Linked DNA regions of Homo sapiens. The protein of the gene in region 3 purifies or fractionates together with the protein of the main gene of each other region. This does not show direct contact. Each region holds a gene or a part of one and is shown on either strand. Other genes may lie near its edges.

Region 1 (7,309 bases), on a different chromosome or scaffold from region 3:
TATTATTTCTAAAGACAGGGTCTCACTATGTTGCCCAGGCTGGTCTCAAATTCCTGGGCTCAAGTGATCCTCCTGCCTCAGCCTCCCAAAGTGCTGGGATTACAAGCATGAGCCACTGTGCCCAGCCAGTCTTACTTTCTTTTTCTTTCCTTTTTCTTTCCATTTTTTTTTTTTTTTTTTGAGATGGAGTTTCACTCTTGTTGCCCAGGCTAGAGTATGATGGCACAATCTTGGCTCACTGCAATCTCCACCTCCTGGGTTCAAGCAATTCTCCTGCCTCAGCCTCCTGAGTAGCTGGGATCACAGGCGTGCACCAACACGCCTGGCTAATTTTGTATTTTTAGCAGAGACAGGGTTTCTCCACGTTGGTCAGGCTGGTCTCGAACTCCCGACCTCAGGTGATCCACCTGCCTCGGCCTCCCAAAGTGCTGGGATTACAGGTGTGAGCCACCGCACCTGGCCTCTTACTTTCAAGATGGAAATACTCTTAGGATGAAACAGCACTGTGAGTGGAAGAGGTAAGAGACAAAGAACCTGTGTACTTGATGACTGAATTTTGTTATCACACAACCTGACAGTCTCCCTTATCTCTCAATTTTCTATTATGGGAGATAATCATTTCCTTATTGTTCAAGTGAGTTTTAGTCAAGTTGTTTACAGCCAAAAGCATCCTAAGTTGCAAGTACTGAATTAATAGAAAATTCCCAATACTAAACGAAACACAGAGAATCATTTTGACTAGGTTACTCTTTGCTGAAATGGTCCCTGAAAGAGAGAAAACATTCAGATATGGAGAAAAGAGATACTTAATTAGAGAAAGGTAAAAATGTACATGATGTTTTCAGAGGCCAGTGAACGGAGGAGTCTGGCTGAAGTAGATGATTTATAAAGAAAATGAAACTAGAAAGGAAGGTAAATTCACAATAAGTAAAACCTTCAATAATTTTTCTCCAGTGGTTTTATAAAGGTGCATAATTTGGTTTCAACTTTATCTATGGTGTTTTCTTTCTTAATTACCCATGGATACATGGGTAATTTTTTACTTTTTTAGGTCCGTTAAATATTTCATTTTTAAAAGAGGTATATAATTCCAACGAAAGGCATTATTTTGGCCAACAAAGTTCATTATTATTTCCATTTATAATTGTCCAAGAATATCTTAATTAAAATTAACTGTCTAGACCAGGCACGGTGGCTCATGCCTGTAATCCCAGCACTCTGGGAGGCCCAGGCAGGTGGATCACCTGAGGTCAGGAGCTCAAGACCAGGCTGGCCATGATGGTGAAACCCTGTCTCTAAAAAAAATACAAACATTAGCCAGGCATGATGGCGCATGCCTGTAATCCCAGCTACTCGGGAAGCTGAAGCAGGAGAATTGATTGAACCTGGGAGGCGGAGGTTGCAGTGAGCCAAGATTCTGCCACTGCACTCCAGCCTGGGCGACACAGTGAGACTCCATCTCAAAATTAATTAATTAATTAATTAAAACAAAATTAACTGTCTAAAACTCAACCATTTTACTAGTTAAAAAAATAATTTGCCATTCAAAATAACATATAAACTGTGAAATTCTAATACCTCAGAAATGTACAGGTCAGCTTGTTTTAATAACTCTCCAATAATTAGAACATTTGAAGTAGTACCATCTCCTGTGACGTCATCCTGAGCTGTTGCTACTTTTGCTATCAAGGAAGCTGTTGGATGTTGAATTTGCTGGAAAAAGCAAGCAACAGATTTAAAAAGACAGGATGAGATAAGGAAGTAGGTCACCAAAAGCAAGATAACCTAGGGGTCAGTAGCAAAATTAAAAAATGAAATAAGCTTCATTCTACAAGTTTACAAGTTTTGTATTATCAATACCTAAATGTCAAGTCCAAAATTTTAAAAGTGACAGGTAATGAGGCCTGAACATTTCATAAAAGTCTTTGCTTCAGAATGCAATGACATTTCTAAAATAAGATTAAATCATTCAATCTCAAAATGAATACATGTATTAAACTTGCAAAGGATATTTTTATTTTTCCATAATTACAAAGAACATAAGGCAGTGCCCTTAAAAGATATTATTGATTTATAAGTATGCCTAAGTATACAAAGTATGTATAAGTATACAAAGACTTGGAAACAGCCAAAAAAAAAAACTTTTTTTTTTTTTTTTTTTGAGACAGGGTTTCACTCTGCCACTCAGGCTGGAGTGCAATGGCACAATCTCATTCACTGCAGCCTTGGCCTCCTGGGCTCAAGTGATCCTCTCACCTCAGCCTCCAGAGTAGCTGGGACTATAGGCGTATGTCACCACACTGAGCAAAATTTTTTTTTTTTTTTTTTTTTGTAGAGACGGTTTTCACCATGTTGCCCAGCCTGGTCTTGAACTCCTGGGCTCAAGCAATTTGGCCACCTCAGCCTCCCAAAGTGTTGGGATTACAGGAGTGAGCTACCACACCCGGCCAAAAAAATTTTTTTATTGAGGTCTAATTCAACAGTCTTCAGCATATCTCAAGACTGCAGTATTTAGCTCACAGCCTTGGCTTAAAGATACACAAGTTCTACTATGCTTCTAATTAAGGCTTATTAAGGTTTATTAAAGTCAGCAGCATCAGCTCACCATCTCATCGAGCAGCACATTGCCATCTTTGGTGAGTTTGATGTCACCTGCACCAGAAACAAGCCTGTTCAGAGAAGAATGATATTAACTTCATGTGGTAGGAAGACATTCCCAGTGCTTGCCACTCCATTATCCTTAATAGAGGGAACTGGGCTCGGAAAACTTCCACTGTACCATGGGAATATGCCATGGTAATTACCACCATTTGCAGCTCACAGAATCATTTCTCCCCAGATGGACAGATTATGGAGATTTCATTCCAAATGGACTATTTACAGGTTTAAAGATAAAAGCACTTGATGAGTTACGAACTGTGGTTTGGTCAAAGAATACTTGGAAGTCTACAAAGCACAAATTCGCAAATTTCCTGCAGGTTTTAATTTTGGTGAATGTTTTCATTCATTCAGTCACTCAACTTAGTTTCCCTCATCCCTGCATTTATTAGATCACCAAGTTCTATCAATTCTACTACCTAAATATCTCTTGAATCTGCCACCTTCTCTCCATCTCCACTGTTATCATCTCTACTTTGGATGGCATCCGGATATCTCCAAACTTAAATATACCCTCCACACATTTTTCTTTCTAAAAGGCAACGTGATTCAGTCAGTTCCCTGATCAAAAGTCCTCCAATGATTTTTATGTTTTCCATCATTTTCAAGTTAAAATCCAAACACAGCAATGACATACTTGACCTTTCCCAATATCTTCCCTGCCTCATCTACTTTTCCACAAGCAAATCTTCTGGTTCCCTTAATATACCATGTTTTGTTTCGTTTCTGTTGGATTTGCACCATTGGTCTTTCTTATTCCTGAAATTACTTTGCCCAGGCCTTTACTCCCTCTTCCAACTAGTGAAGTCTTATTCTTCTTTCAAGACTGATCAAACATGTTACTTAAGATGCTTTTCCTTCTGCCATCAGTCCCTTTCTTCAGCATAATTATATGCATCTATATATAATTAGCACATCCTACTCTACCACATCCGTCTCTACCACATCTCCTTAAGAACAGAAACCGTTATCTTGATCATTTCTGTGTCCCAACAACTGGTACCTAAGTGACTTATTTTACCATTAATATTATTTTGTTCATTACTATGAGGATGTGTCTCTCCTCTTATACCCTTTTGCCCTCACTGGTCTCTTTTCCTCACTCTTGTCTATAGAAAAGGGTGCTTAATATATACTGAAAAGATGAATAGATCTGAACAACCATAGACACGGGGTATTCAAGTAGAACTTGGATTTGACCCCATGCCTTCCTGGCTCCAAAGCCTGTGTCCTCTCCACTACAATACATTGCCATACAAAAAACAAAACTACTTGTTGAATTTATGGACCAAGGGTATACAGTCTTAAGGAGCAGAGGAGTTAAATGCTTTGTTTCCAATGAGACACTAAATTAACTGACTTTCTAACTGCATATGAACCTTGACGACAAGTCGGGGGTCGGGGAAGCGCCACAGCTTCACTCCCGGGGCCCTCTACTAGGGGAGGCTTTTCTCCTCCACCTGCACCAGGCGAGAAATACCCCCAGAGCAGGGATGAGAATGAGGGAAATCAAGCTCGCAAGAACATCCACAGCGCTACGCGGACGCCTGCCTCAGAGGGCGACAGGACACCAACGGGCCCCTAGCCGCGTAATGGCCGCTCCAACCGCTGTCTCACATTTTCATGGTGCCTTTAGGACCCAAGTTGGTCCGCAGCACATCCTGCAGCCCTCGGGCGGCGCATATATTGACAGCCAAAGCTGCCCGGGCCCGCGCCACCTCAGCCTTGGAGTTGACGGCCTTTATCGCAGCCATAGCCTAACCGTTCAGAGGGAGAAAAAAAAAAAGCCTTAGTCGCGATTCTGAGCAAAAACGGCAATGCGACGCCACGCTCTCTTGAGCCTCGGCCAATCATCGCCCTTACAGGAAGTGACGTTATCATGCCTCGCCCGACGGAAACCAGAATCGTTTTGGGTCTGGTCGCCAAGATGGCGTCCTCCGCCTCCGCCCGGACTCCGGCAGGGAAGCGAGTGATAAATCAGGAAGAATTGCGGCGGTTAATGAAGGAGAAGCAGCGTCTGAGCACCAGTCGGAAACGGATAGAATCTCCATTCGCGAAGTACAACCGTTTGGGGCAGCTGAGTTGTGCCCTGTGTAACACTCCGGTTAAGAGCGAGCTCCTGTGGCAGACTCACGTCCTGGGAAAGCAGCACCGAGAGAAAGTGGCCGAGCTGAAAGGCGCGAAGGAAGCCAGCCAGGGTTCGTCCGCCAGTTCAGCGCCTCATTCCGTCAAGAGGAAAGCGCCGGACGCAGACGACCAAGATGTCAAGAGAGCGAAGGCCACCTTGGTGCCTCAGGTACAGCCCTCCACATCTGCGTGGACCACCAACTTTGACAAAATAGGAAAGGAGTTCATTAGAGCGACTCCCAGTAAGCCTTCAGGACTCAGTTTACTCCCCGATTATGAAGATGAGGAGGAGGAGGAAGAGGAGGAGGAAGGAGATGGAGAAAGAAAAAGGGGGGACGCCAGCAAGCCGCTCTCCGACGCACAGGGCAAGGAGCACTCAGTTTCCTCTTCACGGGAGGTAACAAGTAGTGTGCTGCCAAACGATTTCTTTAGTACTAATCCTCCCAAGGCCCCCATAATTCCTCATTCAGGGTCAATTGAGAAAGCAGAAATACATGAAAAAGTGGTGGAAAGGAGAGAAAACACCGCGGAAGCGTTACCGGAAGGTTTTTTTGACGACCCTGAGGTAGATGCAAGAGTACGAAAGGTTGATGCTCCAAAAGATCAGATGGACAAAGAGTGGGACGAATTCCAAAAAGCCATGAGGCAGGTCAACACTATTTCCGAAGCCATAGTTGCCGAAGAGGATGAGGAGGGACGGTTGGACCGCCAGATTGGGGAGATCGATGAGCAGATAGAGTGTTACCGACGGGTGGAAAAGCTACGGAATCGCCAGGATGAAATAAAAAATAAACTTAAAGAAATCCTGACCATAAAAGAACTGCAGAAAAAGGAAGAAGAGAATGCTGACAGCGATGATGAGGGGGAACTACAGGATTTGTTGTCTCAGGATTGGAGGGTGAAAGGGGCATTGTTATAGGGTTTTAAAGACCCAAGGTTTCTAACAGCCTCTGCTGTTGTATAAAAAGTGCTGTCTCTCAGTAGTATAGCGGTTACTTCATGCCTCAAGATTTGGGTACCTGGATTGCTAAACTGGATTGTTGAGATAAAATGAGCCAGTGAGCTACAGCACTTTGGAAAATTTGTGTAACATGTTTTTGAGGTAAAGTTGTTTTTGAAATTTCTGAAGTGTTATATACCAAAATGCCAACATTTCCACGACAGACTTAACTGTATAATTTCGTTGTAAAATCTGTAAGTTGTAAATATTGTACATAGTTAAATCTGTATTCTGTTTTGAATTTTTTTAATTAATAGAAAGACCAACCGGCAAACTTTCAGATGAATGCTTACTGTGGTATTTGGAATGTATGTATCTTCTGAACCCTACATCAAGTTGAAAAGGTTTGTTTTCTTGTTTCTTTGGTTTTTGTATGGTTTTTTAGAACACTTCATAAACACATAAGTCATTGTAGGTTAATCAGTTCTCTTAGTGTGCTTTATTTTAAAAACATAAGAAAACTATATGCCAAACATGACCAAACCAATGATGGTCAGATGTGGTTGCACATGAGAGTCACCTATGAAGCATTAAAATAATTAAAGTGTCTGAGGCCTTCCCCTTCAATAAATCTGGGATTGGGCCCAGGCAACTGTGTTTTTTAAGCACCCAGGTTATTCTAATATATGCCAGGGTTAGAGAGTAACTGCCCTAAATCCAGAACCCATTTATGTTTTTCAGGTTTTTTCTTTTTCTTTAAATAACACATTCCATAAATTTGCTGTTTCTTGAATGAAGGAAAAAATATTATCTTTTATTTATTTCATCCAGCCTTAAATTTTGTTATTTGGTGGTAAATTAGGGTTCCTTGTTTGCAGGTCCTATCTATTGTAGAAAGAATATTTAAGTTGTCTTTCCAGCAGTAACAATTGGCTCTTGCTGGTCATTGATAGTTTAAATCACTCCTTCCTTTAGAGATTGAGGTACTCAAATAGGAAAAGGGAATTAGCAGTGTTCTGGAGTTGAAATGCATACAGCATATTCAAATAAAAGTGAGCAATAATAATAATAGCTAAGACCTATATATTTCTTAGTATGGGCCAGGCATGGTTCTAAGTGCTTTACATATATTAACTCAATCTAGTTTCCCTAAAGTCTTTTTTTATGGAGAGGAGTACCAAGAGACAAGGTTTGAAAAGCCTTGAATGCTAAGTGAAAATTTTTGATGAAGTTCATATGAAAATGGAGGTTTTGAGCAAAGAATTACATCTGCAAAGAAGTATCATGGGACATTATTAACAGTATATAGAATGGAATGAACACGGAGGGTAGAAGGAAGCTAGGAGCTATTTGAAAACTATATTTTCAAAAGCAAGGTGACAAGACTGATTAGCTGAGGATTGGGAGAAAAGGAATAGAAGTGAAAGCATGTCATAGGAATAGCTAAATTCTTTTGTTGTTTGTTTTTTTTGTTTGTTTGTTTTGAGACGGAGTCTCGGTCTGTCGCCCAGTCTGGAGTGCAGTGGCGGAAACTCGGCTCACTGCAAGCTCCACCTCCCAGGTTCACGCCGTTCTCCTGCTTCA
Region 2 (7,456 bases), about 15 Mb from region 3:
AGGCGTGAGCCACTGTAGCCAGCCCAGTTTTTAAAAATCACACAAATTATCATATTGCACAGAAAAGCAATGTTGAAAATCCTGTGAATACTCTTAATAAATCCTTACAAAATCAGTTGAGCAATTTTTACCACACATCTTTCCTTTCTATACTGCTTATCACTTCCAGAAACTTTAGTTAATTACAAACATTTCCATTTTTTTAAGTCCAGACTTGCAGATTTTAATTTGCAATATAAACAAATTGGTAATATAGAGCCCAATTTTACTGGCAGGAATAGGATTTTTTTTTTTTTTTTTCAAGACAGGGTCTCGCTCTGTCACCCAGGCTGAAGTGCAGTGGTGTGATCAGGGCTCACTGCAGCCTTGACCTCCCAGGCTCAAGCAATCCTCTCACCTCAGCCTCTCGAGTAGCTGGGACTACGGGGGCAGGCTACCATGCGTAGAGATGAGGTCTCGCTATGTTGCCAGGGCTGGTCTTGGACTCCTGCGCTCAAAGGATTCTCCTGCCTTGGCCTCCCAAAGTGCTGGGATTACAGGCTTGAGCCACCGTGCCAGCCAGGATTCTTAATAACAGTAAAATAAGAAGGATGTAAGCACTACTCTTCCCCAATAACTGAAATCCAAGAGGCACAAAACCACATGTAATTGTGTGGTTTTTTTTTTTTTTTTTTTGAGACGGAATCTGTGTCTCCCAGGAGTGCAGTGGCACAATCTGGGCTCACTGCAAGCTCCGCCTCCCGGGTTCACGCCATTCTCCTGCCTCAGCCTCCTGAGTAGCTGGGACTACAGGCGCCCGCCACCATGCCCAGCTAATTTTTTAGTAGAGACGAGGTTTCACCATGTTAGCCAGGATAGTCTTGATCTCCTGACCTCGTGATCCACCCGCCTTGGCCTCCCAAAGTGCTGGGATTACAGGTGTGAACCACCGCGCCCAGCCGCGATTCTATTTTTTATTCAGAAATACTGTTGACTATTCTTAGTTTTTCCATGCAAACTTTTAAATTTTTTTTAATTTTAGAATTGACACACTTATTTTTTATTTATTTTTTGAGACGGAGTTTCACTCTTGTTGCCCAGGCTGGAGTGCAATGGCGTGATCTCGGCTTACTGCAACCTCCACCTCCCCGGTTCAAGCAATTCTCCTGCCTCAGCCTCCAGAGTAGCTGGAATTACAGGTGCCCGCCACCACGCCAGGCTAAATTTTTTTATTTTTTTATTTTTTGTAGAGACGGGGTTTTGCCATGTTGACCAGGCTGGCCTCGAACTCCTGACCTCAGGTGATCTGCCTGCCTCGGCCTTACAAAGTGCTGGGATTACATGTGTGAGCCAAGGCGCCCGGCCGAAATACTTACATGGTTCAGAAGTACATATATCTTATTACACCCCCAAAACAGATGATGGCTTTTTTTTTTTGAGATGGAGTCTCCCTTTGTTGCCCAGGCTGGAGTGCAGTGGAGCGATCTTGGCTCACTGCAACCTCTGCCTCCCAGGTTCTAGCAGTTCTCCCACCTCAGCCTCCTTAGTAGCTGGGAATACAGCTGCGCACCACCATGCCCGGCTAATTTTTGTATTTTTAGTAGAGACGGGGTTTCACCGTGTAGGCCAGGCTGGTCTTGAATTCCTGACCTCAGGTGATCCGCCTGCCTCTCTCTGTCCTTTGTCCACAAGGACATTCCCTGTGAGGAAGGTAGGTAGCTTTTTTATCTTAGTGGCTTTTTCAGGTATAGAATGGGAGATAGGTTTGCCCTAAGCAGTTCCCAGCTTGACTTTTCCCTTTGGCTTAGTGATTTTGGGGCCCCAAGATTTATTTTCCTTTCAATGTGTAATTGTATCTGTAACATAAATTCCCAGAATTATGATAGCTGAGTCAAAGAGTAAATGCCTTAATTTTTACAGATATTGCCAAATTGTCTTCCCTAGGGGTTCAATCAATTTTTAGTCCTACCAGCAATATGTGTAGGATTCATTTTTCTTCGGTCTCATCAACACAATGTGTTATTGAACTTCTAAGATTTTTGCCACATTATTTTCCAGTTCCAAAAAACAAAAACAATGACCCACTGAGGTTCTGATGGGAATAACATGACATTTATAAACTCATTTGCGATACTCCTTTGTGATATTGTTTTTATAATATTAAGTCTTCCAACCAGAAAATAGGTTATCCACCATTTATTCAGATTTAATTTACTTCAAATTATCTTTTATTTTTATGTTACCATTTAAATTTTGTACCTAGGTATCTTTTCATTTTAGGGATTACTTTTCTTTTTTTTTTTGGTTTTTTGAGACAGAGTCTCGCTCTGTTGCCCAGGCTGGAGTGCAGTGGCGCAATCTCGGCTCACTGCAAGCTCTGCCTGCCGGATTCCCGCCATTCTCCTGCCTCAGCCTCCTGAGTAGCTGGGACTACAGGCGCTCGCCACCACGCCCGGCTAATTTTTTGTATTTTTAGTAGAGATGGGGTTTCACCGTGTTAGCCAGGATGGTCTTGATCTCCTGACCTCGTGATCTGCCCGCCTCGGCCTCCCAAAGTACTGAGATTACAGGCATGAGCCACTGCACCTGGCCTACTTTTTCATTTCTGTATCTAACTAGTAGTTGTTAGTGCAGAAAAAAATAATTTTCATATATTCCTCTTATATCCAGCACCTTACTTATCTTAGTAACTTTAGCACTGTTAGTAATTCTGGCATTGCCTCTCTGCTGAGCATGTAAGAGTAAACAAGATGGGTGGACTCTGCTGTTCTCCAGTAATAACGCTGATGAGAAAAATAGAAAATCAACAGACAAAAATAAAACTTATGCAATTGGAGAGAATTAAAATAGTGTCAAATGACAGTACTAAAAGTGAGACAGGGTAGTCAGGGAAGACCTGCTTCTATTTTTAAAAATTTATTTTTATGGCCAGGCACAGTGGCTCATGCCTGTAATCCCGGCACTTTGGGAGGCTGAGGTGGGCAGATCATGAGGTCAGGAGTTCGAGACCAGCCTGGCCAACATGGTGAAACCCTATCTCTACTAAAAATACAAAAATTAGCTGGGCATGGTGGCAGGCACCCGTAATCCCAGCTACTCGGGAAGCTGAGGCAGGAGAATCGTCTGAACCCGGGAGCCGGACGTTGCAGTAAGCCGAGATCGGTGCCACTGCACTCCAGCCTGGGTGATAGTGCAAGACTCTGTCTCAAAACAAAAAAACAAAAAAAAATTACTTTTATTTTTTAATTTAGAGACTGATTCTTACTTTGTTGTCCAGGCTGGTCTTGAACTCCTGGGCTCAAGCAATCCTCCCGCCTCCGCCCCGCAATGTGCTGGGATTGCAGCCATGAACCACCACACCAGGCCAAGGGCAAGACCTGCTTCTTGGAGAAAGTGACAACACCTTAAGCTCTAAATGGAAAGAACTTTCCACTCATGGGAATGAATGGCACTGCAGGTTTTTCCTGCTTACTGCAGACAAAACCAATTCACTGAAAAGTGCTACTGCAGTATACAGTTGTATTAACCTGAGGCTGGCCTCAGGGAAGAAGGGTTACCACTCAAGTAAGTTTTCCTGAAGGGTCAGCTCAGAGGTTAGGGTATTTCATAGTTTGGTGTGGGCAGGGCACTAGGGAATGGATGCTGCTGATTGGTTGGAGATGCAATCACAGGGGTGTGGACTACACTCCTCAACAGCTGAGTCCGCCTCTTGGGGGAGGAGTGGGACAGAAGAAGCGGTTGGGTCATGGGTCACGAGTCTGGGTGGGGTCAGTTAGTTGCCAGAATGCGAAAGTCTGAAAAATGCCTCAAAAGACCAATCTTAGGTGCTACGATAACGTTATCTACAGGAATAATTGGGGAAGTTACACATCCGATGTCCTCCGAAACAATGGCTGGTTATCGTTTACTACATTTTAGCAGAATTCTCCCCTCATAATCCTAACCTCCCGGTCTTTCATTAGTTTTATAAAGGCAGTTTCAGCCCCCAAACAAGGAGGGGCCCTGTTTAAGGAAGGGACTATGATCATCCTTGCTTAAAAGTTAAACTATAAATTCTCCCATGGTTAGCTTGGTTTATGCCCAGGAATGAGCGAAGACAGCCGGCCTGCGAGGCTAGAAGCAAGATGGAGTGAGCCATGTTAGATTTCTCTCACTGTCTTTGCAAAGGCGGTTTCCAGGAACAGCGTGCAGAATAGGGGGCTATCAGGCTCCTTTTGGTCATTTCTTCCTAGCCGTCCGATTCTGAGCTCTTCCCAACCCTTTTCTTGGCGACTTACCTCCCGCTGTCCTGGCCCACGCTACTTTTCGCGGCTGCGCAAGACCCTACGCAATCCAAAATATTTCATAGCTAAAAGGGTCCCAACTTCCGGAGACCTCCCGGAAGGGGCGGGGCTTATGGTAGCCCATTCGTACGTATCGGCCCGTTTGTCTGAAGGTTGACGGAAGTGCTCTATCTTGTTGCCGGAAGTGGGAAGAGAGAAAGGTTGTGATGGCGGCTATAGCTGCATCCGAGGTGAGTTCCACCCACCGTACACCGGGGGTTTTGTTGGTGAGGGTTCCGGGGAGCGGCCTGGAGAGAGGTGGAGGCGAAGTCTAGTTTCGCTTCAGGGAGGCTCAGACACTGTGGGGTCAAGTCGGCGGTGGAGGCCCTAGGCCCAGCCTGTGGGGACCGGCGGGGACTCGGCCTGGGCAGTCCTGGGAGAAGCTGAGCCGGCTCTGCCTGAAGCCAGTTCTCCTTGTCGCAGGTGCTGGTGGACAGCGCGGAGGAGGGGTCCCTCGCTGCGGCGGCGGAGCTGGCCGCTCAGAAGCGCGAACAGAGACTGCGCAAATTCCGGGAGCTGCACCTGATGCGGGTGAGTAGTCTTGGAGGCCGGCTTAGATCCGTCATCTGGCCAAGCCTGTGCGCTTTTGTAGAGGGGACGAGGAAGCCACACCACTGCGTCTGACAGACCAACAGAGCAGGATCATCTGAGAGGAAAGCTCTGTTCGGTGGTACTCAACCCTGGCAGCACATTGGGATCATTCTGAGAACATTTGAAAATATAACTGTTCACTCCAGCCCCTCTCCCACCCACATCCAATTTAATGTATCTGGGTTAGGTTTGGGAGTCTCCATTACTAACAACCTCCCTGCTCCGTGATTCCAACAAATTCTTCATTTTACCTAGGGAAATATGTAGAGCTAGAGACAGGAAGAAACTTGTCTAGTGTCAGTAAGAGACCTGGTTCACTTTAAAAAATAATAATCTTCTGTCAGAATCTGTTTGAGTGAAAAGAAAATAATCATCTGTTTTTGGGACTTCTGGGGGAAAAGAATAAAAAGAAAATAAAAAAAATGGCAAACTTTTGAAAGTCTACAGTGTGGTAGTTCAGCCAGTTGATAGGGAATCTGATGTTTAAGTGCCCTGGAGGTGCAGAGGAGGAGAGAGGAATGCAGTTTGTGGGTCTCCAGGGGGTGCCTCATGTAGTAGGTGACACCTAAACTACTGTTTGAAAGCCAGACAACTAAAGGAGTTAGAGAAAGAGATATCCAAGCAAAGGGAACAAATTCAAAGAAAGAGAATTTGTATTAGGGATAAGAGTCCAGCAAATAGCTTGCTGCAGTTGGAGCAGAGAAAGAGAAAAGCAGCCCCTGTTTCACCATGGAGTGACCTGACAGCTAGGCCATGGTTTCACAAAATCCCAAAATCACTCTGACTGTTGTAGTGAGACAAAACAAAGAAGACTTTTCAAATTACAAGAATGACCACATATTTCTTTCTTCTGACTAACACCAGTGACTGTTATTAACAAATACAGCATTAGTCTCACTCCGTTACTTCTGCCTCCTATATAAAAATGTAAGATACTGGGCCGGGTGCGGTGGCTCACGCCTGTAATCCCAGCACTTTGGGAGGCCGAGGAGGGCGGATCACAAGGTCAGGAGATCAAGACCATCCTGGCTAACACGGTGAAACCCCGTCTCTACTAAAAATAGAAAAAATTAGCCGGGCGTGCTGGCGGGCTACACGGGAGGCTGAGGCAGGAGAATGGCATGAGCCCGAGAGTCGGAGCTTACAGTGAGTCGAGATCACACCACTGCACTCCAGCCTGGGCGACAGAGCGAGACTCCATCTCAAAAAAAAAAAAAAAAAAAATCTAAGATACCTAATTGTAGAAAGCCCCTGCTTTCTGACAGTACCCAATCCACATCCTTAACCCTCCCCTCAGTCACCTGATACAAACCCAAATCCTGGAACAAGCCCTTCCTAACACCCTGTCACTCAAATGCCCACGGTTCCCCGTGGTTTGCTCTCTTCTGTGCAACAGACTCAACTTTGTTGACCGTAGGTATGTTCTTGGCGTCTTTAATTGCAGGGCTTTTCCAGGGCCAAGAATATACTAGGGATGGTAGTTGGGAGGAGTATCTCTCTTTGCCGAGGGAAAGTTAATCTAATAAACAATTAAAAAGACATGCTTAAATATTTAGAGTGATTGTGTAAGGAACACATGTCTGGAAATTAGGAGGCGGGGCTTCCTGGACAAACTGCCACCAGCTTATGACCTAAGGAATGTCTAACTCAAGTTTTCCTTAAGACGATACACTCATTTTGCTTTATGCAATTAAGTTTATTTAAAAATAGACTCTTCTCCCTGCTACCCCAGCTCCAAAAAAAAAAAAAGACTCTTCAATGATACTTCAAATGGAAAATTCCTTTCATTTTTCATTTGTCAATGCAAACTGTGAAAATATTTAAAAGGAGGGGAACTTGGAAAGCATTAGAGGCATTAAGATAGGTTTTAAATCCTCTAACCCAAATTGAGGCTTTTTTCTTGAATTAGGATTAAAAGATAATTGAGGCCTGGTGTGGTGGCACATGCCTGTAATCCCAGCACTTTGGGAGGTCCAGGCGGGCAGATCACTTGAGGCCAGGAGTTTGAGACCAGCCTGGCCAAACTGCAAAACCACGTTTCTACCAAAAATACAAAAAAATAAGCCAGGCATTGTGGCACACGCTTGTAACCCCAGCTACTCGGGAGGCTGAGGCATGAGAATTGTTTGAACCCCAGAGGCGAAAGTTGAAATGAGCTGAGATGGCTCCACTGTACTCCAGCTTGGGTGACAGAGTGAGACTCTGTCTCAAAAAAAAAAAAGAAAGAGTGTCTTTCACATCATGTGACGTAATTTTTTTTTTTTTTTTTGAGATGGAGTCTCGCTCTGTCACCCAGGCTGTAGTGCAGTAGTGCAATCTCAGCTGACTGCAACCTCTGCCTCCTGGGTTCAAGTGAATCTCCTGCCTCAGCCTCCCGAGTAGCTAGGATTACAGGTGTGCACCACCATGCCTCGCTAATTTTTGTATTTTTAGTAGAGACGGGGTTTCACCATGTTGGCCAGCCTGGTCTTGAACTTCTGACCTCAGGTGATCCACCTGCCTCAGCCTCCCAAAGTGCTAGGATTACAAGCGTGATCCACTGCACCTGGCCAATTTAATAGTAA
Region 3 (7,023 bases):
CAAACCACCCTGTGTGACCTTTGGCAGTCACGCCAATAAAGCCTCAGTTTACCTGTGCAGGGTTCCAGTGTGCATTCAATAACATCTGTGAACACCCAGGAGGAACACTGGGAGAGGAGTCCACACCCAATGGCTCCAAACCTGCTGAGCTTTCAGAACTGCCCACTGGCCTCCACCTCCCCAGAGTATCAGGGAGGAACAGAGTGACAAGGTTGTCACAGGAGTCTGTCCTTTTATGGGAGGCTGGCTGTGCTTTTTCTACACACTCTCTCCTGGTTCTCGTCCAAGCACTGAAGTCAGTGCTATCATCCCCAGCTTCATAGATGCCTGCCTAACACCTGTGACTGACCTCTGATGGCCATTATTTGCACTCAGAGAAGGGGCTGTGCTTTGAGGGAGGGTCTCTTTTGGAAGCTCCATAGGGGTGAGGGGTAACCATGTAGTATATCCCAGCTACATGGAGCCTGAACTCAGTCAACTGTAGCAGCTGGAGCTCACAAAGTCCAGTCGGCACATGGGAGCCAGAGGTAGGGCAGAATGCCACCATCCCTCAGCAAGAGCTATCCTAGGGTCATGAGGACCACCTAGCCTCTCCTGCCTCCTGGCTCATCCAGATCTCAATCCAAGATGCAAAAGCTCAGCTCAGTGGATTCTGAATGGTCTGAGTGACCCAACCCACAGGAGGTGTCCAACAGCTACAGGACTCAGTCCCTGCTAAAAGCCTTCAGCAGATGAGATTCTTTATAACCGCCTGGCTGACCAGCATCTGGAGGGGGAGTGGAGAGAAGCCAGCTCCAAGAAGTGGCTGCACACAGGAGAGCCAGACTGTGAGCTCAGCAGGGGGTGGGACCATTTGTTCTCTTCAGTGGCTGGCAATCCTGTTTTGTAAAGGCTCAGATAGTAAGTATTTTAGGCCTTGGGACTGTGATGGTCTATTTTGTGTGTCAATTTGGCTAGGCCATGGTATCCAGTTTTTAGTCAAACACTAGTCTAGATGTTGCTGTGATGATGGTTTCTTTTTTTCAAGACAGGGTCTCCCTCTTGTCACCCAGGCTGGAGTACAGTGGCATGACCATGGCTGACTGCAGCCTCAACCTCCCAGGTTCAAGCGATCCTCCCACCTCAGCCTTCTGAGTAGCTGGGACTATAGGTGTGCACTACCATACCTGGCTTTTTTTTCTCCCCCTAGAGATGGGGGTCTCTACATTGCCCAGGCTGGTCTTGAACTCCTGGGCTCAAGTGATCCTCCTGCCTCAGCCTCCCAATAGTGGTGGAATTATAGGCATGAGCCACCATGCCTGGCCTATTTTTTAGATGGATTAATATTTAAGTCAGTAGAGAGTAAAGCAGATTACCCTCCATAATGTGGGTAGGCCTCATCCAATCAGTTGAAATTCTTAAGAGAAAAAAGACTGAGATCACTGGAGGAAGAATTCTGCTTCCAAACTGCCTCAGAGCTGAACTGCAACATCAGTTTTTTTCCTGAGTCTCCAGCCTGCTGGTCTGTTGTGCAGATTGCAGACTTGCCAGCTCCTACCACTGCTTGAGCCAGTTCCTTAAAATAAATCTCTTTCTACATATATACACACCCTATTGGTTCTGCTTCTCTAGAAAACCCTAATACAGGGACCATAGCCTGTATTGTGTCTATAGCCCCTTACGCACCTCTGCCACTGCAGTAAGAAACCACCATGGACAATATGTAAATAAATGGACGTGGCTGTGTTCCAATAAAACCTGATTCATAAAAACAGGCAGTGGGCTGGATTAGGCACATGTAGTTTGTTGGCTTCCTGTCTCCTGACAAATAGGCATAGTACTTGGCACAGAGAAGGCACTTTGAGTTATAAAAATTTCATTTTTTAAAATCTGTAGGGTGAAAGTGAACAAATAAACAAATGAACCACTGAGAGTACACTTGCTGGCTGTAAGGCCGGCAGCTGGGTTTAGGAGCAGAGGCAGCAGAAGACCGGAGCTTTCCAGTCTTTAATTTCCGTTGCCCTGACATCGATGCCTGGTGTGAAGATACATCACCTGACATCTAAGGGGATCGGCCCAAGGGAGGAAATGAAAGCTGTGAAAAAGATGCTCTGCTCTCCCCACTCACCAGCCTGCCTCAGAGGTCCAGCTTAGCCACAGACACAATCTCTGACAACTCCCAAGAACTAGCAGGAAGAGCAATATAAGAACTAGGGTTTATTTTAGCAAAGAAAACACGTAAGAGCCACACTGGTAGTCCCAGGAGAGGCCCAGCAGCAAATGCTGAGAAAAGCCAGTGGCTTTTTGCACAGCCTGCCCATGGTGGAGGGGAGCACCTGAGCTGGCTCCTGGGCCCACAGCTGTGCCTGGGAATAGTCCAGGCTGTGCCTGCAGAGGAGCTGCTCCAAGCAGACCCTGAGGAAGGGCACATATCCCAAATGCTGCTTGCTTCAAACAGGCACCCTCGGTGCTGCCTCCTCTGAGGCTGGCAGTTCCTTCCTGGATATGCAGGGTCAAGAGCGGAGGGGGAAGCAGAGAGAGTGCCGCCTCACACGTACTCCCCACAGTCGGCGATGATCACCTTCTGCTTTGGCTTCCCGTCCTTGCTGCCCTGGGCCTTTGTGGCAGAATAGAAGTGAGGGAGTAAGGCCGGAGACTAACAGTGGTTTAGGGATACCAACCCCTGCCTGCCCATTTGCCCACTTCCACCCCGGAACCTGGGCAGCAGCAGCCCCTCCCGCTGGACACAGCCCCTGGCCATCTCTCTCAGGCCACAGAGACTCTCCAGCCCTCACACAGGGCTGTGCTCCTAGGGCCTGGGTAAGGAGGAGGCCCATTCCTGGCCACATACCTCAATTTGCCGCAAGACATCTAGGCCTTCGGTGACCTCTCCAAACACCACATGCTTGCCATCCAGCCAGTCTGTCTTGTCACATGTCAGGAAGAACTGAGAGCCATTGGTGTTTGGGCCAGAGTTGGCCATGGATAGTAGACCTGAGGGAGAGAACAACCATCAGCTCCCCGAACCCTGGCTACCAGCCCTTAAAGGACGTCTGTGCAGGCTGTTGACAGCCCTTCAGCCAGTCAGGCTCAGACTCGGGGATGCACAGATCACATGCAAATGCGGCCACCTTATCTTGGATTCAGTTAATAGTCAGTGAAATGGTAAGTGAGGTGTTTCAATCACTTTATACTGGTCTGTTCTTTCATTAATTCATTTATTTAACAATTAAGTGTCTACTTGACAACCAGGTCCCTGTTAAGCCCTGGGAACACTGATGAGCAGAACATAGTCCAAGCTCTGGTGGAGCTCACAATCAGTGGAAAAGAGCCATTCAAAATGACAGCTATGACACAGTGAGGCCTGGTAACATGGACATTTGTCACGTAAGAGAATGTACATGTATATGTGTGTGTCTGTGTGTGTATGTGTACATGTATGTATGTGTGTGTGTGTCCACAATGACTCCTAAGTTTCTGATCAAGCGGCTAAGTGGATGGTGGAGTCATTTATTGAAACAGGGAAGAGGAGGAGGAAGAGTTTAGGGGAGAAGGCCAAGAGCTGTTTTAGACATGTAAAGTGTGAGATGCTCGTGGGATATCCAGTGAAGACAACAGGCAGGCAGTTGGACAGGAGTCTGGAGCTCAGGGAGCCATCAGCATGCAGATGCCAGTCTGCACAAACTTAACTCAGAGATACCGCTGAAAGCCCTGGGACCGGGTGTGACTGCTTAGGGCACTGCTTCTCAGTGGGGTTGGTGTCCTGTCCCTAGGAAACCTTTGGAAATCTGAATTTACTTTTTTTGAGATGGGGATCACTCTGTCACCCAGGCTGAGTACAGGAGTGCATCACAGCTCACTGTAGCCTCAATCTCTGGGGCACAAGCAATCCTCTCACCTCAACTCCCAAGCGGCTGAGACTACAGGCGTGCACCACCACACCTGGATAATTTTTTTATTCTTTTTTCAGTAGATATAGGGTCTCACTATGTTGCCCAGGCTGGTCTCGAACTCCTGAACTCACGTGATCCTCTGGCTTTGGGCTGCCACTTCAGACTCCCAAAGTGTTGGGATTACAGGCATGAGCCGCCGTGCCTGGCCTGAAAGTGTTTTTGACTGTCTGAAATATTGTGGGGGTGCTACTGGCATTTAGCAGGTGGGGGCCTGGAATGCTAGATGTTCTGCAATGTCTGGCACAATGAATTGTCTCATATCCTCTTGGCCCTTACAAACATCCTGCTAGAGGCTGGGCGCAGTGGCTAATGCTTGTAATCCCAGCACTCTGGGAGGCTGAAGTGGGAGGATCACTTGAAGCTAAGAGTTCCAGACTAGCCTGAGCAATATAATGAAACCCTGTCTCTACAAAAAACTTAAAAATTAGCCTGGCATTATGGATGGCGTGCACCTATAATCCCAGCTATTTGGGAGGCTGAGGCAGGACTGCTTGAGCTGGAGAGGTTGAGGCTGCAGTGAGCCGTCTTGCACCACTGCACTCCAGCCTGAGCAACAGAAAGAGACCCTGTCTCAAAAAAACAAAAACCAAACAACAACAAAACAACAAATATCCTGCCAGATATTGGTATAGGTAAAAAATGTGTTTACAGTTATCTGCACCTAAAACATAATTCCATTATACATATAAGCCCAAAGTTTTGGAGTGCTTTTGATTTTCCATGGAATCTTCTAGGAATGTAACTACTATGTAAATAAACAGATTATTCTTTACTTTGGACTCTAATCAACTTTATCTACCATTTCACAAAGCCGTATCACCAATAGCATCACTCCTAGTGGTATCCAGTTGACACTCCCGTCTGCATTTCTAACTGCTGCGTTTGAGTACAGGGGCAGACGCCTGAATAATTCACTTTGTGTTCTGACACAGCTGTGCTTAAGCATGTACATCTGGAAACATATTCGAGTATTATACAAATTCGTTTATTTCCTCTGATGTTCTTCCCTATTATAGTTACAGATGAATACTGATTTTTAAAATAACGATGTGGGTCAGTGGGCTATATCACCTACACATGTCAGTTCAGTATAGTAAAGAGGGGCCCTACAAACCACCAGTTAGAAAAACGGAGCACAGGGTAACAGGCTTCTGGAGAACCAAAGAATGGGCTCTGAGCCACTTCAGTGTTTAAGGGTCAGGAAAAGAAGGAGACAGCAAAGACAGAAAAAGCAGCCATCTAGGTAAAAGGAGACAAGAAGAGGCAGGAGTCCTGCCAGCCAAGTGAAGAAGGAGTCAAGGAGAACAGAGTTAGTACAGGCTGAGCATCCCAAATGTGAAAATCCAAAATCCAAAATGCCCCAAAATCTGAAACTTCACGAGCACTGATATGATACTCAAAGGAACTGCTCACTCGAGCATTTCAGATTTGAGATATTCAGATTTGGGATGCTCAACTGGTAAGTATAATGCAAATATTCCAAAATACAAAATACTTCTGGTCCCAAGCATTTCAGGAAAGGGACACTCAACCTGTAGTATGAAATGCTCCTGGGAGGTGGGATAACATCTGGGAGGTGGGATAAGATGATCGCCAAGAACTGGCTACTCGTATTTTTGGCAAGAGTGGTTTCAATGGCGAGATGGGACTAGAAGTCTGCCTAGAAGGGATTAGAGAAAACGCGAAGGCAGCAAGTCTGTACCATGTTTTCAAGAAGTTATGCTTTTACTTCTTGAAAAAAGATGGGGGACCAGGGGCATGGGTGATAGCTGGAGAGGGAACAAGAGTACAAGGATGAAGTTTGTTTTTTTTTTTCCGAGACGGAGTTTCGCTCTTGTTGCCCAGGCTGGAGTGCAATGGTGCGATCTTGGCTCATCACAACCTCCGCCTCCCAGGTTCAAGTGATTCTCCTGCCTCAGCCTTCCGAGCAGCTAGGATTACAGGCACGCGCCACCACGCCCGGCTAATTTTATATTTTTAGTAGAGATGGGGTTTCTCCATGTTAGTTAGGCTGGCCTCCAACTCCTGACCTCAGGTGATCCGCCTGCCTCTGCCTCCCAAAATGCTGGGATTACAGGACTAAGCCACTGCACCCGGCAACCGGATGAAGATTTTTTTTAAAGGTTGATAACTGCATGCTTTCATGCTAATGGACTGATCTAGCAGAGCAGGGGAAATGGATTACAAGAAGGGGACAACTTTAGAAGCCATGTTCCTAAGTAGAGGAGAGGGACAGGATCCAGTCCACAGGTGGAGAGGCTGGCCTAGGAGAGACAGCTCATCCCCTGTAATTGGAAGAAAGAGCATGCACGAGTGGAGAGATGCAGGAGGTGAAGCATTAGATGAGGTGGGAAGGTGATGATATGAGGGCTTCAGAAGTGAAGACGGGCATGGACACATCATCTCCGGTTGGGACTGAGCATCAAGTAGGGAAATCTGGTCAGGTTGGCAAGGGTCCCCTTAAGAACTATAGTTATAAATTTCAAGTGGGATTGTTCAGTACAATTCTGTGTTTTTTCTCTAGTTGCTGGGGGACTAACCACCGAGATTTTACTGAGTAAATCTGATGGTGAGGGCAGGGAGAGCAGTGGGGTTGAGAGCATAAGAGCCTGCAACAGCAGACCACAGAATCCAAGCGGGGCTAATAGGAATTGTGGACACGGTTGGGGGATGAACAGTACCTGAATGTCAACAAGCCAACTCCACCCTAGCAAGGCTGCATGGTTCTCCTATGTCTGGTGGCTGGGTCTCCTCCAGACTCTTAGTGTCCGCCAGCCAGAACTACAACCTGTCCTTCCATCCTGCCTGGCCATCCCACCCTTGCCCAGCCTCCCTCGTCACCACATGCCAACTGGCTCCTACCTGGTCCCGTATGCTTGAGGATAAAGTTTTCATCATCGAACTTCTTCCCATAGATGGACTTGCCCCCAGTGCCATTGTGGTTTGTGAAATCACCGCCCTGGCACATGAACTGGGGGATGATGCGGTGGAAGCTGCTTCCCTTAAAGCCAAAGCCCTTTTCATGAGTGCACAGGCAGCGGAAATTCTCTGGAATTGAGAAAGGAAAAAGCGCTGGGGTTAAAAAATAGGA
Region 4 (7,129 bases), on a different chromosome or scaffold from region 3:
GGCACGTACTCACCCTGGCCTTCTGCTTCTCAGCCTGCAGCTGCGCGTCGATCTCCTCAGGGCTTGTATACTGCCTCGCCCGGCCTTTGTGGCCTCCCTTTCTTCCTGCAGAGACCCGCAGTTTAGGTGAGCGGAAGCAGCTGCCTTGACTGCTCTGACCCCCAGAGGGCTGTGTCCTGCTTGGAGTACTCTCATCGGAGGCCTCACCTACCCCTCACCCAGCACCACCCAAACCGACACCTCCGCCACCCTCATGTGTTCAAAGGCACGCAGGAAGCAACTCGTGACCATCTGATGCATCACCAAACTGTGTACTAAATGCTGGCTCCTACACAGAAGACCGGAGGGGAGAACATGGCGGACGGTGCACTGCAATGACTTGCTACATCCCCTGGTCCCTTACAATCCAAGCATAGTGGACTCAGATGCAACCACAGAAACATGTACCACTTACATCCCTGCCGTCACTATAAGGGCTTTTTACACGATGTTCTGTCACAGCCAGGGGCACTTTTTTTTTTTTTTTTTTGAGACGGAGTCTCGCTCTGTCACCCAAGCTGGAGTGCAGTGGCGCAATCTCGGCTCACCGCAACCTCCACCACCCTGGTTGAAGTGATTCTCCTGCCTCAGCCTCCCGAGTAGCTGGGACTACAGGCGTGCACCACTATGCCCAGCTTATTTATTTATTTTTAGTAGAGATGGGGTTTAACCATGTTGGTTGGCTAGAATGGTCTTGATCTCTTGACCTCGTGATCTGCCCACCTCAGCCTCCCAAAGTGCTGGGATTACAGGTGTGAGCCACCGCGCCCAGCCAGCCAGGGGCACAGTTGATCCTCGGAACAAACCTATGGTACAGGGGTGATAGCTGGTCCCATTTCATAGACCAGGAGACTTAGACCAAAGCAGACTGCGAAACACCACGAAGTTTAGAGTCCAACTCCCAGGTTCTACGCTTACTGGCTTGATGACTTTGGGCAGGTATTTAACCTCTCAGTCTCAGTTTCCTCATCTGTGTCCCTACCTTACAGGGTTGTCACAAAGATAGATGAATTAATCAATATACAGAAAGCTGCTGGAACAGTGCCTGCTACTGAATAAGCACTACAAAAATGTTCGCTAATATCCAGGCACAGTGGCTGATGCCTGTAATCCCAGCACTTTGGGAGGCCAAGGCGGGCAGATCACTTGAGGCCAGTTCAAGACCAGCCTGGTCAACATGGTGAAACCCCCTCACTACTAAAAATACAAAAATTAGCTGGGCATGGTGTCACATGTTTGTAATCCCAGCTACTTGGGAGGCTGAGAAAGGAGAATCGCTTGAACCCAGGAGGCAGAGGTTGCAGTAGCCGAGATTGAGCCACTGCACTCCAGCCTGGGCCACAGAGCGAGACTCCGTCTCAAAAAAATAAAAAAATCGCTGTTCGTTACTTTTCCCTCTAATCTAGTATTTGGTGGAAAAACAACAACAAAAGCACCACTGAGCACATAAGCAATTTACTGCAGATGTTGGAAACACAATAAAATACCTTGTGTTCACCTTAGTAGTATGGCAAAAAGAGAATACTTAAGGGAAAAAAAAGAAACCCAAACCTACAGGCAAAAACTTTGTGCTTAGACTAAGAAATGACTGGCAAAGTACAGATGAAAACAAACCTGACTACACAGTCTAAAAGTTAAAAATGTGACTAGCAGTTAAAGTGTCAGTTTTATAGTCTGACCCTCTTCAGCCAGAACACCAGGCTGACCCTTGCTTAAGCCATCAGCCAGTTTTAAAGCAAGGTGGCATCCCCCTCTGCTGGTCCCCAAGTATGCAAGGGTGGCTGTGGCCTCAACTTCCACACAGGAAGCTGAGGCCCACCTGATTTCCATAGTCTGTCTCTGTGAGCAGAGACTCTGTAATCAGCCAGAGTTGCTCTGCACTCCAGAGGCGGTAGCAGAGATACTGGCCTCCTCTGATTCCTTACAGCAGCTGCAAAGCCATAATTGGGCTGCTAAAGATCACACCACCCATTTTTAATGACTACCTAGGTTCCCAGGGGTGTCTAAGTCTATGCTTATTAAAGTCCTATTGTGAGAGAGCAAGTGTGCCAAGAAAAAAACCAACACCCTTTCTTGCTCTCTTAATACACCAGGCAACAGTAACAACTCAAAATTGATTACTATAGGCTCTCCTCTCATGCACTTGGCTATGGGACCCTGACCTTAGCTTGGTCCACAGTAATTTTATAGTAGACTCTTCAAGACTTTAAAAAACGATTTGCACTTAACATAATGGAAACAAGCGTTGGTCCTTTGCTCTTAGGGAGTTTGATACTTTTAACACCTTCACGGTTTTTTGTGGTTTTCAGATTAACCCAAGAAAATGTAAACCTTGTCTACCCCAAAAAGCTTTTCACAAGCCCAAAGACCATTTAGCTATGAATTCATATTTAAGGTTTTATCGTTGTAACCTCCAACCTTTACCCAAAGTATCCATTAAGTAAAACTTCGGAGGGAGGATGGCTCATTCAGCAACCTCCTTTTACAGATGAAGGGACTGGGGAACAATAGCAGAGAGACTTTTCCAGCCACAGAATAAATCAGTAGAGAGCTAGGTTTAAACACATTTAGCTCTGTAATGCCCAATTATCTCTGGAGTCAGGAAGCGATTTAGGTTTGAAAACGCTACAGGCAGATGTTTCTGTGGGTTGAGTGCATTAACCAATATAACACATGAGCTACCAACACAAATATATTTGTTCTGTGCCAGGAGGTGGCCAGGCACTTTATGAGCGCTATAATTTTACCACCCCGGCCCCAATTCAACAAGCTAAGGATTAGCCCAGTGTTTCAGATGAGGAAGAGGTTAACTTGTTCAGGGCCACAGAATTAGACGTGACATAGCTGGGATTCAAACTGGGGACTATCGATTCTAAAGGGGGAAACAGGATAGAGAACGGGCTAGAAGATAGAGGACGGGCTACAATGGACTGGGCAGTCATGAACCTACTTACAAGATCAAGAGCTGGCAAAGCCTTAAAAATAAGAATAGTTACTGCTTCACTGGGCACTTTTAACGACTGCCTGGCACTGTACTGCGCACTCCACGTGGATTACCTAGTTGAAGCCTCCCAACAGTACTAAGAGGTAGGTACAATCGTTATTCCCATTGGCAAATGAGAAAACGGAGACACAGGAGGTGGAGCGACTGGCTCAAAGGAACACACCGAGCCGCTACCGAACGGGGGAGTCGAAACCAGGTCTGGAAGGCTCATGGGCATCTCCTTAAGTCCTCCTAGGCAGGCCTGGCTGAACCGAAGCCAGAAAAAGCCCACGTTTTACGCGAGAGGCAGGCGGGCCCGGCACAAGCGCGGGACGCGGTGACTCAGTTCCTAGCCAGCCAAAGAGTGGGATAAATTCCAGAACCCCTAGACCCGGAGAAGCGCATCCTAGATCCGGCTTTCTAGGCCGGCGAGGACCCAGAGCTTCCGAAACTCCTCAGACCACTGACGGAGTGACTCTGGGACACCACAGTCCTCAGTTTCCCCATCGGGACAATTGGGCGTCGAGGCCCAGGCCTGGCTCTCAGCCGGTGCGGACAGCCTCCCTCTGCGCTGCTCTCAGAGACGCGCACGGGCTGAGGGGACAGCGGAAGCCGGACCTGGGCCGCCCCTCCAGGCCTGCGGGCCACCGGCGCCCGCCCCTCACCTCCTTTAGGCATTGCGGCTCCGGCGGCTGCGGCGGCGGCGGCGGCGCCTCGAACTGACACCGGAACCGGAAATAGCTTGGGCTCGACTTCTTCCTCCTGGGCCAGCCGCCGCCGCCGCTTCAGTGGCCGCAGTGGCCGCAAGGACCCGGACCTCAGGGAGGCCTCCGCACGAAGTCGGACCGTCCTGCGCGCCGCCTAAGTCCAGGCTTGCCCGTCTGCTGCCAGGCAACAACGCCCCTAGTCTCTCCGTTCGGGAAGACGCGTGGCCCTGCCTGCCACCCACCGGAAGTGAGGGCAAATGGCAACAGCGGCTCTGGAATTCTATACAGGCATTGCTGAGGACACCTAAGATGACGCAATCTCCGCGCGGGTAGGGCGGGGCTCCGCAAGGACCTCATGCCTTAGAGATCGCCTGAAGAGCGGAAGCCTTCTGTCGAGAAGCAGCTACCCAAGCTCCAGGAGCTTCCGGTATGTGTTTTCCCTCTGTTCTCGATTACCTTGGCAACGGCTGAGGCGGGAGACCGGTGGTCTGCACCGTCCTGGAGGGAGATATGAGTGGCTGGACTCTCAGCCAGCCACTGGGATGTGTTCGGGCTTTGGACCTTGAGGCCGGAGAGAGCTCCCGAGAGGAGGCGGCGCCACGTTCGTTCTTCTGAGGGGACGGTAGATTTGGGGGTTTTCCTCTAGGATTCTCGCGCCGTTTCCTCTGGTAGGAACGTCTTCTGTGTTCTGATTGTTTTTCTAAGCTGGGTTCAGATGCTGTCCTTTTTATGAGTTTTCCCTACAATCCTGCACTATCTTCCTTCGCTCCTCCTCGCCTCCTTCCCCTAGCGCCCCAATCTCTCTTACACCTCCCGGCACATCTTTCTTCTCGATCTGATTACCTCCTACGTCCTCTTTCTCCTCGATCTGGTTACCGCCTACCATTTTCACCTCCGAGAGGCCTCTTCTGACTTCCAGGCTGGATCAGGGCCCTCGAATTTCCCTGGGTCGTAGAAAAGCGATCATTCTCTTGTCACAGACTATGCGCCTTGGGGCCGAGACCAGAATTCACCTATTTTTAGCTTCAGCGTAGGGGAGACTAGTGCGAAGACCACTGATTTGGGAGTCAGGAGCCCTCCAGAGTCAGGTTTTGCAAATTCTCAGCTGTGTGACCCTGATTCTACCTTATAGAGTTTGATTCCTCCTCTATATGGTTGTTTTAGAGAGTTCATGAGAGGAGGCTCTGTGGGCGGGGGGGGGGTGGGTCTTTGTAAAGTGTCAGTACAGAAGGGAGTGACTGAATGAATTTGAGAGAGATGAATCTGTTATGCTGAAAGGTAAATACTTAACCTGGGTTCTCTCTGGCAGCAAGGAAATGCTGTGTGGTTTGAAAAACGCTTTGCTATTTAGATTGGGATCGGCCTCTTGTATGGGAACTACCTGACTTTATGTAATATGTTGTTTGGTGTGAAAGAGACCTTGGCAATCAGCCAATCCACTGCCCTCATTTTACAGAAGAAACAGGACCAGAGAGGGAAGGTGACCTGAAAGTCACAGAATAATTTTTTAGAGCTGAACAAGAATCCAAGCCTGCAACTGCAGAGACGAGAGATCTTTCTGCTGTCTATACTCTTGGAAAGCACATCCTAAGGTACTTTGATTTTACAGTCATCTTTCCCTTTTTATTTTATGTTTTGTTTTGTTTTGTTTGTTATTGAGACATGGTCTCACTCCGTCACTTAGGCTGGAGTGCAGTAGTGTGAACATGGCTAACTGAAGACTTTCAACCTCCTGGGCTCAAGTGATCCTCTTGCCTCAGCCTTCCGTGTAGCTCAGACCACAGGCACCCACCACCATGCTCAGTTAATTTTTTTGATTTTTTTTTTTTTTTGGTAGAGATAGGGTTTCACCTCATTGCTCAGACTGGTCTCAAATTCCTGGGCTCAAGTGATCCTCCCATCTCAGCCTCCCAAGGTGCTGGCCAAGACCAGAATTACAGGCATGAGCCACCGTGCCTGACCTTCCATCTTTGCCTTTTTAAATACTCACCCCCATGGCTCCCCGAGTCACAGCCCTCCTTATACTCTATTGTAATTGCTTTTTCTCTTGTCTGTCTCTTTGCTAAAATGTCACCTTCTAAGGGGCAAAGGCTTAACTTTTGTTCTGTGTTCCCAACATCCAGTATAGGGTTAAGCTTTTAGTTGAAGTTAGCTAATGACAACAGCAAATGTCTCTTAGGCACACATTATACACCAGGCATGATAGATACAATTCTAATGAAGTCTTTGCAATGACCACATAAGGTAGCTTCCATTATCCCCATTTTACAGATGAGGAAACAGAGGCTTAGGAAGGTTAAGTACCTTTCTGAAGATCACAGCGGGTAAGTAGCAGAGCCAGGATTTGAACACAGTCTGGGTGCTGAGCCCTGTCCCATAGCTGTGACCCTATGCTGACTCAAGGAAGTCAGCCTGTACCGAAATAATGGCTGGCAAAGGCCTTTGGGGATTTGAGACTCAGAAACCAATTCATTTTTTTCCCCCAGATCTTTGCAGATTATCCTGTGGAAGGAAAATGCCTAAAGTCAAAAGAAGCCGGAAAGCACCCCCAGATGGCTGGGAGTTGATTGAGCCAACACTGGATGAATTAGATCAAAAGATGAGAGAAGGTGAGTAGGGGAGTTCCTGTCTGGGTGGGCTGGGTCCAAGGGTCACAGGCTTAGATGCCCCCAGGGGACAGGCATAAATGCAAATATAAAAAGAGAGTGGTCTACTAACACTGACATGTTGTGTTTGCTTATGAACTTGGGGAAATACTGTAAGTGCCCGAAAATAAGATAACATTAATGAAAAGGTCCTCAGAAAAGGTGTTTTTTTTTGTTTTTGTTTTTGCCAACTCGAATATAAAAGGTTATGAAATATAGATCAAATAGTCTACCTATAGTTATTTACTATTTTGGTTAGATATATATTTAAAATCATACAAAATATATTTACTTGGAAGTGCTATTCCTTTTCAGTATCATCGATTAGTCTTTGCCGCATCTGTTTTCTGTCACTTCCTTGTAAATGGCGTGTGATCCTGCTTTGTGAACCCGTGTCCTATGCTGTCTTTGGAAATTTTATCTGAAGCCACAAGCATCTGTTGGCCTTATATGATCACAGTGTGGCCACTTACCAATTGACTTTTTTATTTTTATTTTTTGAGTTGGAGTCTTGCTCTGTCTTCCAGGCTGCAGTGCAGTGGCGTGATCTCGGCTCACTGCAACCTCTGCCTCCCGTGTTCAAGTGATTTTCCTGCCTCTCAGCCTCTCGAGTAATTTGGATTACAGGCATGCGCCACCATGCCCGGCTAATTTTTGTATTTTTAGTAGAGATGGGTTTCTCCATGTTGGCCAGGCTGGTCTCGAACTCCTGGCCTCAAGTGATCCACCCACCTCGGCCTCCCAAAGTGATGGGA

The links.
Region 1: the proteins of PPIE (region 3) and ZNF830 purify together in Homo sapiens (affinity purification with mass spectrometry; 5 studies listed by BioGRID and IntAct, with this or other methods). This does not show direct contact.
Region 2: the proteins of PPIE (region 3) and SYF2 purify together in Homo sapiens (affinity purification with mass spectrometry; 4 studies listed by BioGRID and IntAct, with this or other methods). This does not show direct contact.
Region 4: the proteins of PPIE (region 3) and BUD31 purify together in Homo sapiens (affinity purification with mass spectrometry; 4 studies listed by BioGRID and IntAct, with this or other methods). This does not show direct contact.

Annotation. Positions count from the first base shown.
Region 1 is NC_000017.11:34,956,982-34,964,290, forward strand, and holds ZNF830 (zinc finger protein 830), read left to right. Parts: upstream 1-4,558; 5' UTR 4,559-4,585; coding exon 4,586-5,704; 3' UTR 5,705-6,796; downstream 6,797-7,309. Other genes in the region: CCT6B (T-complex protein 1 subunit zeta-2), read right to left, coding at 1,579-1,713, 2,606-2,669, 4,276-4,412.
Region 2 is NC_000001.11:25,229,480-25,236,935, reverse strand, and holds the start of SYF2 (pre-mRNA-splicing factor SYF2), read left to right. Parts: upstream 1-4,433; 5' UTR 4,434-4,468; coding exon 4,469-4,492; intron 4,493-4,724; coding exon 4,725-4,832; intron 4,833-7,456. UniProt on the Homo sapiens protein: Involved in pre-mRNA splicing as component of the spliceosome.
Region 3 is NC_000001.11:39,748,860-39,755,882, reverse strand, and holds part of PPIE (peptidyl-prolyl cis-trans isomerase E), read right to left. Parts: intron 6,981-7,023; coding exon 6,795-6,980; intron 2,974-6,794; coding exon 2,831-2,973; intron 2,597-2,830; coding exon 2,528-2,596; 3' UTR 1-2,527. UniProt on the Homo sapiens protein: Involved in pre-mRNA splicing as component of the spliceosome. Combines RNA-binding and PPIase activities.
Region 4 is NC_000007.14:99,404,849-99,411,977, forward strand, and holds the start of BUD31 (protein BUD31 homolog), read left to right. Parts: upstream 1-4,120; 5' UTR 4,121-4,397; exon of another isoform or gene 4,398-4,416; intron 4,417-5,185; 5' UTR 5,186-5,321; intron 5,322-6,215; 5' UTR 6,216-6,244; coding exon 6,245-6,338; intron 6,339-7,096; exon of another isoform or gene 7,097-7,129. Other genes in the region: PDAP1 (28 kDa heat- and acid-stable phosphoprotein), read right to left, coding at 14-105, 3,688-3,700. UniProt on the Homo sapiens protein: Involved in the pre-mRNA splicing process. May play a role as regulator of AR transcriptional activity; may increase AR transcriptional activity.